4 linked regions of the Homo sapiens genome follow. The protein of the gene in region 4 purifies or fractionates together with the protein of the main gene of each other region. This does not show direct contact. Each region holds a gene or a part of one and is shown on either strand. Other genes may lie near its edges.

Region 1 (3,500 bases), on a different chromosome or scaffold from region 4:
GATGCAGGCAAAGCCCTTATGGTGTCTATCACATATCATATATGCAGCTGGTGGCTATTAGCTTATTAACTGGAGTACCATCCTAGGTGCCAAGAAATACAGCTTTTTATCATTCATTTTGGATGCTTTTTATACTTTAGTCCCTTTATGTATGAATACATGGCTGTTGCATTTGGAATATGACTCAGTATTCTCCTAGAAATTTAAAATGTAATTCATTTGTTGAACATTCTGTGCTTTACTATGTGCTCTTCACCAATCTAGGTGAATTTGATTAATTCACTTAATCCTCAGAGTCACAGTGATAATATTTATGATTAGTAAATAAATGCATCAACATTAATACCTCCTATTATAGTAGAATGTTTAACTTGAATTCAAATGCGTGACAAAAATCTAATGTATTAGAGTTTATCCTTCTATTCAATGAACACTATATGTGAATGAAAAAGGCACATGAATCTGCTATTTCTGCAGCTGGTTTTACTTCCTGACTGCCTCTCATAGTACATGCAACTTTTGCTAAGTATCACTTCAGTCTCTGAAGATACATAGGCCGGGCATGGTGGCTCTCGCCTGTAATCCCAGCGCTTTGGGAGGCCGAGTTGGGTGGATCATTTGAGGTCAGGAGTTTGAGACCATCCTGATCAACATGGTGAAACCCCATCTCCTCTAAAAATACAAAAAAAATTAGCTGGGCCTGGTGGTACATGCCTGTAGTCCCAGCTACTCTGGGAGGCTGAGGCAGGAGAATTGCTTGAACCTGGGAGGCAGAGGTTGCAGTGAGCCAAGATCTTGCCACTGTACTCCAGCCTGGGTGACAGAGCGAGACTCCATCTCAAAAATAAAAATAAAAAATAAAGATAAAATAAAAAGTGTAAAACATGACCTCCAAATGATGGTTATTTGAAGTGGTAGCACTATAGTGGTCCATTTTCATGCTGCTGACAAAGACATACCCGAGACTGGGAAGAAAAAGAGATTTAATTGGACTTACAGTTCCACAAGGCTGGGAAAGCCTCAGAATCATGGCGGGAGGTGAAAGGCACATCTTACGTGGCCGCAGCAAGAGAAAAATGAGGAAGAAGCAAAAGCGGAAACCCCTGATAAACCCATCAGATCTCGTGAGACGTATTCACTATGACAAGAATAGCACCGGAAAGACTGGCCCCATTGATTCAGTTACCTCCCTCCTGGGTCCCTCCCACAACACATGGGAATTCTGGGAGATACAATTCAAGTTGAGATTTAGGTGGGGACACAGCCAAACCATATCAAGCACCAACAGTAAAGGGACAAGTGGACAATTGGCAATGTTGGTCTTTCTCCTAAGACTGTGTCCTGGGCCAGGCGCAGTGGCCTGTAATCCCAGCACTTTGGGAGGCCAAGGTGGGGGAATCACCTGAAGTCAGAGTTTGAGACCAGCCTGGCCAACATGGTGAAACCCTGTCTCTACTAAAAATACAAAAATTAGCCAGGCATGGTGGTGCATGCCTGTAATCCCAGCTACTTGAGAGGCTGAGGTACAGGAATAGCTTGAACCCGGGAGGCGGAGGTTGCAGTGAGCCAAGATTGCACCACTGCACTCCAGCCTGGGCGACAGAACAAGACTGTCTCAAAGAAAAAAAAAGACTGTCTTTCTCCAACATGGAGCATTTCTAAGGGTGTTTTGACCATGTATGACTTTTTTTTTCTTCTATGCACTCACTGACTTTAGAACTTAACCCCTTCACAAAATGCTTCTGTTTTGTAGTCATAACTTTTTTATGTGGCTTTTCATTTACTCTGTTTGGAGAAGGTTAAATTTCATACAAGCAGTGTAGTTATTATTAGATTTTAACTGTTTGGTAAACTTTAAAGCGCTTCGGGTGGTATTCCAGGCATTGAGATGTGAAAGTTGTTGCTCAAGTCTATTATCTTTTGTAAAACTCGCCCACTCAGCCTTCTGCCATTAATGAAAAGGTTGGAAACTGCCAAAGGTGACAGTGGTGGAAACAACATTAGCTGGAAACTACTGCTGCTATCAAGGTTGTGTTAGCAACCTGGATGTAGCAGCCAAAAGGTCTCCTTCCATTTATACCGTGATGAAATTTTAGTTACTCGAGCAGCTTTATGCATTTCTTTGCCCTTGGGGATTAACAGATGATAAACCTTATTAGGTTTTTGTTTTTGTTTTTTTTTTCCCCAATAAAAAAGTTGTCAACATTTGCAGAAATACAGAGAATGGTATAATGAATCCTCATGGCCTCAACAGTAAGCTACATGTGGCCGTTCTTGTTTTTATATCCCTAGTCCATACTTCCCCTCCCACTTTGAAGCAAATCCTAGATCTTATTTCATTCGTAAGTGGATCAGATTCTTAATTTTTATATTGGCATTGTAGTGAAATATTGGTTTAAACTTTATTCCTCAGCCATCTTAGAAGTTGACCCAGAATGAGAAGACAATTCCCTGTTTAGCTGAACAGAACCTTTCTGCTGTTAATTATAACACTTCAGCTTTTAGGCAAGGAAGAAAAATAGCTCAATTGACAATTTTATTGATGAACATAAATTTTTATCATGTGAGGGATCTTTAAAAAAGCATTTGTGCTAGAGACATACCACCTTGTGTGTTTTAGCCAGTTGCATAGATTAAAATTGTTTTTTCATTTTTGATCCGTAGGAATCCTATGAGGATGGTTGTGAGGATTATCCTACTCTATCAGAATATGTTCAGGATTTTTTGAATCATCTTACAGAGCAGCCTGGCAGTTTTGAAACTGAAATTGAACAGTTTGCAGAGACCCTGAATGGTTGTGTTACAACAGATGATGCTTTGCAAGAACTTGTGGAACTCATCTATCAACAGGTATGTTGGCTTATAGCATGCAGTGACCTTCAGATAGCTTCCTTGAAGCCCAAGGATAGTGGCTACTCCTTGAGGGAGACCAGATTCATGATCACCTGCCTCCACACTTACTCTTTATAGTTTCCGGGAGTTCTAAGTCTGTCTTGTATAAAACTCCTATAGTTAGGGATCCAAGGGTAGAGCCAGACAGGATTGCAAGTTCACATGTGTAGTCAAGATTCAATATAGGTAATATTCACCTGTTTAGCCAAAGCTCTATACAAGCAGTATAGTATAGAAGGTGATATGGGCACTGAAAACGAAGGCTACATAAGTGTCACCCCCACCAAAACCCTGCCCCTTGTTTTGCAGGCTCTGAAATTAGCAGTACCAGAAAAGACTGCAATTCTTTTCCCCTATGTGTTGAATTGAATAGTAGTATTAGAGTAGGGGAGGAAAAAAATTGAGAGAATTTGCTTGCCTCATAAGTAGGTCTTTAAAAAAAAGAAAGCCAAACCATAAAATGTCTTGTCTTAGCATTTCTACTTGCCTTTGCTTTCTTTTAAAATTTAAGGATTTCATCTTAATTCCTTGAAAGTCTAATTTAGTCAGTTGAAATTGTTTCATTATACAACATTTAGTTTTTATCCCAGCATATTGGTCATTAACAT
Region 2 (3,500 bases), on a different chromosome or scaffold from region 4:
ATATCACATTGTACAATTTACATTATACTTTTTTCCTCTGCTCACCTCTATGTCTTGGGGATCATCCTGTGTTAGCACATAGAGGTTTACCTCAGTGTTTTTCATAGAAAAAAGATGCGTGAGCAAAAAAGAAACCCTCTATTCCCCATCTGTGCAGTTGCCTTCCCCAGCGTCAATCGCTGTGACTGGTGTCTTCTGTAAACTTCCAGAGTTATCGAGCATATATAAGCATATTACTGTATGCTAGTGTATTTCACACAGAGTTTTGTACCCTACAGTTTTCACTTGGATCATATATCTTAGAGCATTTTGTGTCATACGTTTAGAGCTGTCTCCTTTTTAATTGCTCTGTGAAATACCGCTGTATGGATGGATATTTAGGTAATTTCTCATTTTTTAGAGCCTATTGCAAAGAATATGTGAATGTATTTTTAAGATAAATTTCTAAAAATTGAATCGCTGGGCTGAATGGTTTGTATATTTAAATTTTAATAGTACTCACATTGCTCTCCACAAAGGTTTTTTATCAGTTTACATTCCCACCAGCAGTGGTGAGTACCCACCTCCCCTTATCAGCCAAAGCATTTTTAAAGGGTTTGCCACTGTGATAAGTTAAAAAAAAAAAAGATATTTTCTATTTCCTTGTATAACAGTGATATTGGCTATCAATTTACATGTTTTTTACATGTTTATTGGCTATTTGAGTTTCCCTTTTGGGAACAGACTGATTATTTCTTTTGCCTATTTTTCTACAGGGTTGTTTATTATTATTATTTTTTTTTATTTAAGACCGTGCCTGGCCTTTTTTTTTTGAGATGGAGTCTTGCTGTGTCACCCAGGCTGGAGGGCAGTGGCACAATCTTGGCTCACTGCAACCTCCTCCCTGGTTCAAGTGGTTCTCATGTTTCAGCTAGCTGGAATTACAGGCACATGCCACCATGCCCAGCTAATTTTTGTATTTTTAGTAGAGATGGGGTTTCAGCCTGTTGGCCAGGCTGGTCTTGAACCCCTGACCTAAAGTGATCTGTCCATCAAAGTGCTAGGATTACAGCGCTTACAGCTCACAGGCGTGAGCCACTGTGTCTGGCCCAGGTTGTTTATTCTTTTCTATTTGATTTGTAAGTATTCATTTTATATTTTGAATGTTAGTCCTTTTTAGATTACAGATTTTGCAGATACTTTGTGAATCTGAGGAGCCCTTTAAAAATATGTATGATTGAGACTTACCCACAGAAGTTCTCATTCGTAAGTGTGGTGGTTGTGGGGATTGGCATCTGTATTTTAAAATTTGATATACAATCAAATTTAAGAACTATGATAAGATTATGGAGAATGGAGGAATTTAGGACAGTAGCTAAGACCTCAAAAAGATGTGTGTTCAACTCTCAACTGTGTCATTTAACAGCTGTGGGGCCTTGGGCAGGTTATTAAATGTCCATAAGCTTTGTTTTCTTCATCTGAAAAATGGAAACAGTAGGATTTATGAGATAGTTAAATAAGATTGATTCTTGTGAAATGTTTAACACAGTACCTAGTTCATAGGAAAAGTTAAAAAATAAAAAATAGAGACTTATTTTTCTATTCAAGCAATCAAAATATTAAGACTATAAAATACATGTTATGTTATTTGTGAAAAATGTCCATTAAGGTTCAAAATTGGTAACCATTCTCGGTATCAGGTTCATGGAGGAATTGAAATCAATCAGTTGGGTCTTGCTGATGGAACATTCTTGAGTTGTAGTGTCATATCATTAGGAAGGACATTCTTGTCACAGAAGATCTACAAAATCTGTAAAATACGATAAAATGTACCAGATAGTAGCTGAAACTGAAGTGGAGTGTCTGCGTTGTGAAATAGTGTGTGTGAGTAGGATTTTGACCCCGTGGTTAGTGATTATACAACCGACCACCAGGTACCCAGATGGACTTTTCCATCATTGACCTGAAAGAGGCATAAATTTACAGACAGATTAAACAGTCTTCTACCTGTCTGTGAGGTCATGAGGTCATGGGAGGGAGAACACCAACAGAAGTGATTTGGAATGAGTTATTGAGTTGTGGTTGTGGTACCTATGACTTCTTTCTTTCTTTTTTTAGACGGAGTCTTGCTGTGTCTCCCAGGCTGGAGTGCAGTGGCATAATCTTGGCCCACTGCAACCTCCACCTCCTGGATTCAAGCGATTCTCATGCCTCAGCCTCCCAAGTAGCTGGAATTACAGGCACGCGCCACCACGCCTGGCTGATTTTTTTTTTGTATTTTTAGTAGAGATGGGGTTTCACCATGTTGGCCAGGCTGGTCTTGAACTCCTGACCTGAAGTGATCCACCCGCCTTGGCCTCCCAAAGTATTGGGATTACATGTGTGAGCCACCACGCCTGTCCCCTGTGACTTCTTCGGGTACAGTTCCCTCCTGTTTTACCTATGTGGCAAATGAGCCAGGAACGGTTCTCTGAATGTTTTATTAGGTTCATTCATCCAATTATTCATTTGTTCATTTACCATGCAGTCAGAATCTACAATCTTTTATTATTTGAAAAAAAATACAAAACTATATTACCATAATTTTATTTTAACTGTACATATCCATTTTTAAAGACTGGAAAGACCATGTTATTAATGTAATTTTTTTCTTTTTTTACCCCAAATATTCTACAATTAGCATGTATGACTTTAGTAGTAAAAAAGATAAGCTTGTGAAATCTATCAGCTCTCAGGCTAAGCATTACACCAAGAGAATCTTGCACGATCCTTCAATCATAAGAAATCACATGTTAGTGCAGAAGGTCCAGCGTGAAATCCTCTAAGTGGCCAAATCTAGGAGTTCTTCTCTGGCTTGGTTGGCTAAAGCAGTGATCTGTGTCACCCCCAGGGCCATCACTGTGCATGTCCCCATGCCCTCAGCAGGAGTCGTGGACATCCCCATTGTGGAGAAGGAGGCGCAAGGCCAGCAGCAACACCACAAGGTGAGCGAGCAGCCTCCCTGAGGCATGGGTTGCTGCTCTTCCTTGGGAATCATATCTTGATTTCTTTGGCTTCAGATGACATTGTCCCCGAGCTACCGCATGGACGATGGGAAAATGGTGAAAGTGCGGCGCAGCCGGAATGCGCAAGTTGCTGTAACTCAGTACCAGGTGCTCAGCAGCACTCTCTCCTCCGCCCTCGTGGAGCTCCAGCCCATCACTGGTGAGAGTGTCACTTTTCCGCAGTGGGATCACAAAACCCTGTGCCACCAGGTTTTGTCCAGGGCCTCGTTCTGAGCAGCTAGTAGTGTGGCTGACTTGTGTGAGAATGTGCTTCTGGTGCTGATCTGAGGCCGGGGACTCCCAGAGAGATGGTTGTGGCTAGCAGAAGAATACAAACAGGTTGAATGCCTCTATTTAAAACTGTGTAGAGTGGTTCCTCAAAACGATTAAACAGAATTATTGTAAGATCCAGCAGTTCCACTTCTGGGTATATACCCCAAAAATCAAATATTTGCACACATATTCATAGCAGCGTTA
Region 3 (4,201 bases), on a different chromosome or scaffold from region 4:
CTATCTTCAATTATCTGAAGACAGTTCTGATAGCTTCAGAATTCTTTCATACAAGGCAGGAATGCAACTTGTTTTTTAATGGCAGATAAAATCAAAGAGCAAAAGCAAAAGGTAGAAGCTTGAAAGACCAGAGTTGCTACAGATTGTTATTACATGTTCCATAATTTAACAATTGTCATTGAAGTTGGTGATTGTCTTGATATTGCACATCTGTAAGAAGTAATCAAACTATTGTGAATTTGATAGAATGCTTTAAGTTTTATTTTCCAACAAAAGAATGTCTACATACGGCAAATTCATAGATCTGGAATCCATTTATGTCATCAAAAGAGGATTTAAATTTAATTGTAAGCTTATATGATACATTGTTCTAACTGGCAACTAATGAAGGATTAAAAATGAATTTTGAAAATACCACACCACTTGCTTCATTTTGGATAAAAGTTAAAAGTGAATATTCTGAGTATGCTGAAATTAGTTTAAAAACTTTTTTTTCCCATTCCGACCATTATCCCTTTGTAAATCTGGTTTCATCTTATGAATAATATTTTTTAAAAACCATGGAAACAGTTTAGATATACATCAATCCATGAAAGTAGTAGTATTGTCAATCTACCCTGGATTACATATTTTAACGAGAAAGAAACCAGCTCATTTGTGACATTTAGAATTTTTTTTTTTTTTTTTTTTTTTTGAGAGAGAGGGTCTCATTCATTTTATTGCCCAGGCTGGAGTGCAGTGGTGCAATCGTAGCTCACTGTAACCTTGAACTTCTGGGCTCAAGCAATCCTCTCACCTCAGCCTGCAGCTGGAGCTTCAGGTGTCTGCCATCACGCCTGGCAAATTTATTTTTTGTAGAGACCAAGTCTCCTTGTGTTACCCAGGTTGGTATCAAACTCCTGGTCTCAAGTGATCCTCCCATCTCGGCCCCCACAAGTGTTGAGATGACAGGTGTGAGCCACCTTGCTTGACCTAAAAACTTTTGAATATTAATATGCATTGTGTTTATTCAAAGTATATCTAATGGTCTAATAAACAGAATCACTACTTCAATTATAATCTTCAGTTATAATTGAAGAATGACAAAAAGTTGAGTTATAGAAATTATATTAATCTTAAATTCACATTTTCAGTGAAAGTTTTTAAATAATTTTTTCTCTTTCCGTTTTATGTGTGTTCCAATTCTATTTATTGAAATTTAATTTTATATCCATTAACATAATTAAAAATTGGGGCTTTTAAAAAATGTTTTTCATTCTACTAATTTCATTTTATAATTTATAAAAGTACTAGACCACAATGGATTAAAGAACTATCCTTTCATCACAGATAGTTCAATGACTCCTGTTTTTTTTTAGACCGAGTCTTGCTCTGTCACCCCAGCTGGAGTGCAGTGGTGTGATCTTGGCTCACTGCAACCTCCGTCTCCCAGGTTCAAGCAAGTCTCCTGCCTCAGCCTTCCGAGTAGCTGGGACTACAGGTGCCCACCACCACACCCGGCTAATTTTTGTATTTTTAGTAGAGACGGGGTTTCACCATGTTGGTCAGGCTGGTCTTGAACTCCTGACCTCATGATCTGCCTGCCTCGGCCTCCCAAAGTGCTAGGATTACAGGCGTGAGCCACCATGCCCAGCCAACTCCTGTTTTATAGTGTACTTTCTGGAATATTATTCAGCTTTCTCTTGAATTCTTTTAGTAACTAGGAGTTCACTACGTTTCCATGGACCTAACTCCAATAATGATTGGACAGTTTTCTCCCTCTGCTTTTTCTTTCTTTCTTTCTTTTTTTTTTTTTTTTTTTTGAGATGGCGTCTCCTCTGTCAATCTCGGTTCATTGCAACCTCCACCTCCCAAGCTCAAGCGATTCTTGTGCCTCAGCCTCCTGAGTAGCTGGGATTACAGGCACCCACCACCACACCTGGCTAATTTTTTTTTTTGGTAGAGACAGGGTTTCACCATGTTGACCAGGCTGGTCTTGAACTCCCGACCTCAGGTGATCTGGCTGCCTTGGCCTCCCAAAGTGCTGACATTACAGGCATGAGCCACTGCACCTGGCCATTATTGGACAGTTTTAATGGAAAGTGTTTCCTTATATTGAGTGGAAATCAGTCTGCTTATGGTTTATAATCCTCAGACTTGATTCTCCCCCTGAATCTATATGAAATAAATTTACTCCTATTTGAAAATATTTGTCATATTCCTTCTTATTTTTCTTTAAGCTTTATTTTTTCTTATTATCCATATGACATGTTTCCAGAACTCTCCCTTATCCTGATTGTCCTCCTTTAGACACATGCTTTTAATGATATATTTCTTAAAATGTATTACCCAGGACAACATATTTTTTTTTACTGTGGACAGTATACTTTTACGAATGGTGCCAATAATGCATTACATTTTTTAGCAGTCATGTCATCCTCTTGATTTGCATTGAGTCATCATTTCTTAAGAGGGAATCAGGATATCAAAATAGTCTCCAAACTCAGCTGATTCCTTCTGCAGATACACTCTCCACCCTTCTTGATTCCTTTTCGGGAGAAAAGAAAAAAGTTTATTTTCATTGCTAACCTCACTGATTTTTAATTTTACCATTTAAATGTTAGTAACAGCTGGTAATGTAACCAAAGAAGATTTTTGGCAGGGGATGATGCATTCAGAGCCTTCACTCTGGCTACAGGGAGACCATGGAGGATGGGCTGGAACGGAAGCACGATGGACTCCTGGGCACACCGTTAAGTGACTGATGGAGTCATTCAGCTGACAAATGATAATGGCCTGGATTAAGGAAGGAGAAGAGGGGACCAAGAAATGCCAGAGATACATAGGAAGTAAAAATTAATAGGCCTTGGCAACTATTTTTTTTTTTTTTTTTTGAGACAGAGACTTGCTGTGTTGCCCAGGCTGGAGTGCAGTGGGGTGATCTCGGCTCACTGCAACCTCTGCCTCCTGGATTCAAGCAATTTTCGTGCCTCAACCTCCTGAGTAGCTGGGACTACAGGTGTGCATCACCATTCCCAGGTAATTTTTGTATTTTTAGTATAGATGGAGTTTCGCCATTCTGGCCAGGCTGGTCTCGAGCTCCTGACCTCAAGTGATTCGCCCGCGTCGGCCTCCCAAAGGGCTGGGATTACAGACATCAGCCACTGCACCTGGGTTGGCAACTAATTTACACGGAATGGCAGAGAGTGATTAATGAAAAAGCGGGGAGAAAAGCTGCTCTTGACATCTGAAAGCTGACTTGGCATTCACAGCTAGGCTATGTTATTTTCCTATTGGGCATAAGTCTCACAGAATACCAACATTAAACAAGATGACTCTGAAACCTTAATAAAGTGAGAAAAAACAAGTCCACTTTGTAATTTTGTCTAAGCACAGGCAAAAAGAGGGTCATGGTGCCATCCAGAAAATACCAAAAATCACCCTCTCTCAGCTAAAATGAGCAACTGCTACTTTACCAGTGACAGCTTTGTCCCAGCTCTAGTCTGCCTTCCCTATAGAGAAGATGTATTGAGATAATCATGAAATTCTCCTTCTTTCTGATAGTATCCAATCTGGAGCAAACCCGTTTCCTTAGACCCTCTCCCAATCCCAAATTCTATACTAGGTTCTTCTAAACACTCTCATACTGAGACACCCCATGGTTCCCTATGTTGTGTGTTCTTCTTTGCTGCAATGAGTAATAAACTCAACTTGTTTAACTAGAGGTGTGTTCCTGGTGGTCTCTGGTTAAAGAGCATTGATGTTAAGAATAATTTCAGAGTTTCTTGCTTGGACAGTCAGGTGTGAGTAGTGCCAGTAATAGAAATAAAGAATACTGGAGAAGAAGAAAATGTCTTCAGTTTTTAACAGGTTACCTTTGAGATATTAGTAGGTTACTCCAAGTGGAGATATCCAAGAAGTAATTGGATGGATTTATGACTCTGGAGCTCAAGAGAGATGTCTGTGCTGAATCTATCTATCAGTCATCCATGTACCTACCTACCTACCTGTAGCTACACATAATATACTCAGAAATGTACATATTTGAGAGCTTTTTTTTTTTTAAGGCAGGATCTCACTCTTGCTCAGGCTGGAGTGCAGTGGCTCAATCTGGCCTCACTGCAGCCTTGACCTCCTGGGCCCAAGAAATCCTCCTACCTCAGCCTCCCAAGTAGCTGGGACTACAGGTACATACCACCACACCTCGCTAATTTTTGTGTTT
Region 4 (3,464 bases):
TGCTTCTTGATTTGCTTCAGCTCCTTCTAGTGCCTTGAAACTGAAGCTGGCCTGTAGTTGGGATCAAAGATGGAGGGAGAGGGGAGATTGTACTATGGATAGTGTAGGGCAAGAAGTGAATTCTTACACTGGAATGATAAAAGGAACCTGCTTCCTGAGTTTCTTAAAATTGTGTCTGGAACTCAGATTTGCACTGCCTAGTATAGTAGCTGCTGGCCACTGCTCTGTTGAGCACTTAAGCTCTGGCTAGAACATGTAAAATACATATCAGATTTTAAAACTTAAAATGGGAAGCAGACTAAAATAGCTAATCAATTTTTTATCTTGGGCCAGGCACAGTGGCTCATGCCTATAATCTCAGCATTTTGGGAGGCCAAGGAGAGAGAATTGCTTGAGGCAGGAGTTCAAGACCAGCCTGGGCAATATAGTGAGACCCCTGCCTCTACAAAAAATTTTAAAAATTAGCCAGGTATGGTGGTGCACACCTGTAGTCCCAGCTACTCAGGAGGCTGAGGCGGGAGGATCGCTAGAGCTGGGAGGTCAAGGCTGCAGTGAGCCGTGATTGTGCCACTGCACTCCAGCCTGGGTGACAGAGCGAGACCCTGTCTTAAAAAAAAAAAAATCTTGACTACATGTTGAAATAGTATTATTTTGGATACATTGAGTTAAATAAATACATTTTTAAAACTTCTTTCCTCTGTTTCTTTGTACATTTTTCATGTGGCTACAAAAAAATATAAGCTTGTTGTAGGTTTCTGTTGGACAGTGCTGAATTGCCACAGCTAACACCAAGATGATAGTTGTTTATTATCCATTCTCACTGTCAGAAAACAAGATGCTTGGGGCTCTGGTTTTGTTTGCTTATTTTTTTGTTTTTAAACAGAAGTTTTGCTGCCAATTAGCAATTAGAGAATTTTCTTAGGTCAGAAAACTTACAATTTGCAGTAATCAAAAGAAGTTAGTAAATTCTATTTGTGACTCTGCTTATGGAAATTCTAATTTAAAAACACAGTAAGAAATACAGGCTAGATTTATTGATTCTATGATGTTCAGTTAAGGTAGTAAACCTAGAAGTATTCGCCTAAAGAGAAAAACATTCTTGAGTTTGCAGATTGCCATCTTGGTAATATAGAAGGCATGCCATATGCACCTGATGACACTTTATTGTATCTGTTTCTATCTAAAAAGCCTTGCACATTTGCAGTTGTAACCTAATTCAGTTCTCATGGGTTCTTCACAGTAGTTTAAAGTCAAACAGTGTGCACATAGATACACTACATAATAAAAAATTGTACAAAACAGGAGAAAGTAGCTTCATAGTAAATATAAACCAAAACTGAAAAGAAGTTTCTTGCTTGTATCTTTTTGCTATTCTTAATTCTGTGATTGTAAAGATTTTGTCTTTTTGTATATTTTTTATGCAGGAGTCCAACCTATACCTTCTCAGGGAGGCAAACTAGAAATAGCTGGCACTGTGGTTGGCCATTGGGCTGGGAGCAGGCGGGGCCGTGGGGGCCGGGGGCCTTTCCCCCTGCAGGTGGTTTCTGTCGGAGGACCAGCTAGAGGGTAAGTTCTGAGCCACGAAAATGTCTTTTGTATAAGTAAAGAAAACAGCTTCTAACTTGCTTTTTTTTGGAAGTTTAAGTAGGAACATTTTTATATCATTAGATACATTCTTCTTTAATATCATTTGTATTTAATTATTTAGTTTTTATTTATTTATTTATCTTAAGATGGGGTCTCACTGTCACCCAGGCTAGAGTGCAGTGGCACAATCACAGTTCAGTGTAGCCTTGACTTTCTGGGCTCCATCGATCCTCCCACTTCAGCCTCCTGAGTAGCTGGGACCACAGTCATGTGCCACCATGCCTGGCTAATTTTTGTATTTTTGGTAGTGACAGGGTTTCGCCATGTTGCCCAGGTTGGTCTTGAACTCCTGAGCTCAACCAATCCACCCACCTCGGCCTTGCAAAGTGCTGGGATTACAGGTGTGAGCCACTGCACACAGCCTTTAACATCATTTATAATGTTTGCATAGGATCCCATTTATAGTATTATGTAATTATTTAATTAACCATTAAATAATTAACAATTATTAAATAATTAACCATACAATTTTCAATTAACCAGGTGCCTTAATATTTTTAAAGTATTAGTTTTCAAATCAAATGCATTGGATATGGGAGATGTAGCTCAGGGGTAGAGCATTTGACTGCAAATGCATTGGATATGAACCAAAAAAATAAGATTGATTCCTTGGAATAAATCTTCCCTATGATCATACTTAACCTGTTTACGCCTAGTGTTCCATTATTGGAACGCAAAGCATGTGGGAGTTCTTTATGTCCTACTGCTCAAGGTCTGACTGCAAAAATTCAACAAATTGCAACTTCCGGCATAAATGGGTTAATTCAGTGCTTCATAAAACGTAAGATTGGATGGCTTTAAAATCATTTGATACTATTTTAAATGTTGTCTGTAACAGATTTAAGTGTTTACTGTTGTCCTTTTTCATTCATTTAGGCGTCCAAGAGGAGTTATTTCCACCCCAGTGATTAGAACATTTGGAAGAGGTGGAAGGTACTATGGCAGAGGTTACAAAAACCAGGCAGCAATTCAGGTAAGAAGACAACATGATGTTTGTGCCAGTTCAATGCCCTCAGGGATGTCTCCTGTCTGAGCTTGCACTTCTAGTACCTGCGCTCAGACAGAAGAGCTGTGAGGGTAATGCTTTAGCTGTCAAGTGTCTAACACAGTAACTGGCACACAGCTGCTCACCAAATGTCCATTCCCTAGAGCCCAGATCATTTTGCTGTTAAGTGCCTCTTCAGGTTGTCTCTCCCCTTTGCCATGACCCTGTGTCTCTGGTAGCTTCCCGCCTGGTGTGACACGATGGGCTTGGCTTACCTTGGGCATTGCCTAGCCCTGACAGAGCTGGAACAGCCACTTGTAGTTTCTTTTTTTTTCTTTCTTTCTTTTTCTTTTTTTTTTTTTTTTTGAGATGGAGTCTCGCTCTATTGCCCAGGCTGGAGTGCCGTGGCACAATCTCCGCTCACTGCAACCTCCACTTCCCGGGTTCAAGCGATTCGCTTGCGTCAGCCTCCCGAATAGCTGGGATTACAGGTGTGTGCCACGACACTCGGCTAATTTTTGTAGTTTTAGTAGAGTTGCAGTTTCACCATGTTGGCCAGGCTGGTCTCAAACTCCTGACCTCAGGTGATCCGCCCGCCTTGGCCTCCCAAAGTGCTAGAATTACAGGCGTGAGCCACCATGCCCAGCGGTCCTGCTATATTTTTATGTTTTATATTATTTGTCTCAAGGTTCAAAGAAAATGACGATTGCATTGATTCATGGAGAAGGGTGCGTTAATATTTCTGAACTTTAGGGTTGGAAGGTAAAATAGAGGATGTTGTAGGAGAGTATGTGGGGACCCTTGGTTTATGGGGGCCATTCCTTAGGCAAGG

Evidence for each region. Proteins that work in one complex are often made in the same cells at the same time.
Region 1: the proteins of FAM120A (region 4) and PAIP1 purify together in Homo sapiens (co-immunoprecipitation; 2 studies listed by BioGRID and IntAct, with this or other methods). This does not show direct contact.
Region 2: the proteins of FAM120A (region 4) and RPUSD4 purify together in Homo sapiens (co-immunoprecipitation; 2 studies listed by BioGRID and IntAct, with this or other methods). This does not show direct contact.
Region 3: the proteins of FAM120A (region 4) and MRPL42 purify together in Homo sapiens (co-immunoprecipitation; 2 studies listed by BioGRID and IntAct, with this or other methods). This does not show direct contact.

What each region holds. Positions count from the first base shown.
Region 1 is NC_000005.10:43,547,078-43,550,577, reverse strand, and holds part of PAIP1 (polyadenylate-binding protein-interacting protein 1), read left to right. Parts: intron 1-2,664; coding exon 2,665-2,850; intron 2,851-3,500. UniProt on the Homo sapiens protein: Acts as a coactivator in the regulation of translation initiation of poly(A)-containing mRNAs. Its stimulatory activity on translation is mediated via its action on PABPC1. Competes with PAIP2 for binding to PABPC1.
Region 2 is NC_000011.10:126,205,151-126,208,650, reverse strand, and holds part of RPUSD4 (pseudouridylate synthase RPUSD4, mitochondrial), read left to right. Parts: intron 1-2,869; coding exon 2,870-2,963; intron 2,964-3,038; coding exon 3,039-3,183; intron 3,184-3,500. UniProt on the Homo sapiens protein: Catalyzes uridine to pseudouridine isomerization (pseudouridylation) of different mitochondrial RNA substrates. Acts on position 1397 in 16S mitochondrial ribosomal RNA (16S mt-rRNA).
Region 3 is NC_000012.12:93,512,514-93,516,714, forward strand, and holds the end of MRPL42 (large ribosomal subunit protein mL42 precursor), read left to right. Parts: 3' UTR 1-3,701; downstream 3,702-4,201.
Region 4 is NC_000009.12:93,559,685-93,563,148, forward strand, and holds part of FAM120A (constitutive coactivator of PPAR-gamma-like protein 1), read left to right. Parts: intron 1-1,424; coding exon 1,425-1,566; intron 1,567-2,523; coding exon 2,524-2,620; intron 2,621-3,320; coding exon of another isoform or gene 3,321-3,335; exon of another isoform or gene 3,336-3,464. UniProt on the Homo sapiens protein: Component of the oxidative stress-induced survival signaling. May regulate the activation of SRC family protein kinases. May act as a scaffolding protein enabling SRC family protein kinases to phosphorylate and activate PI3-kinase.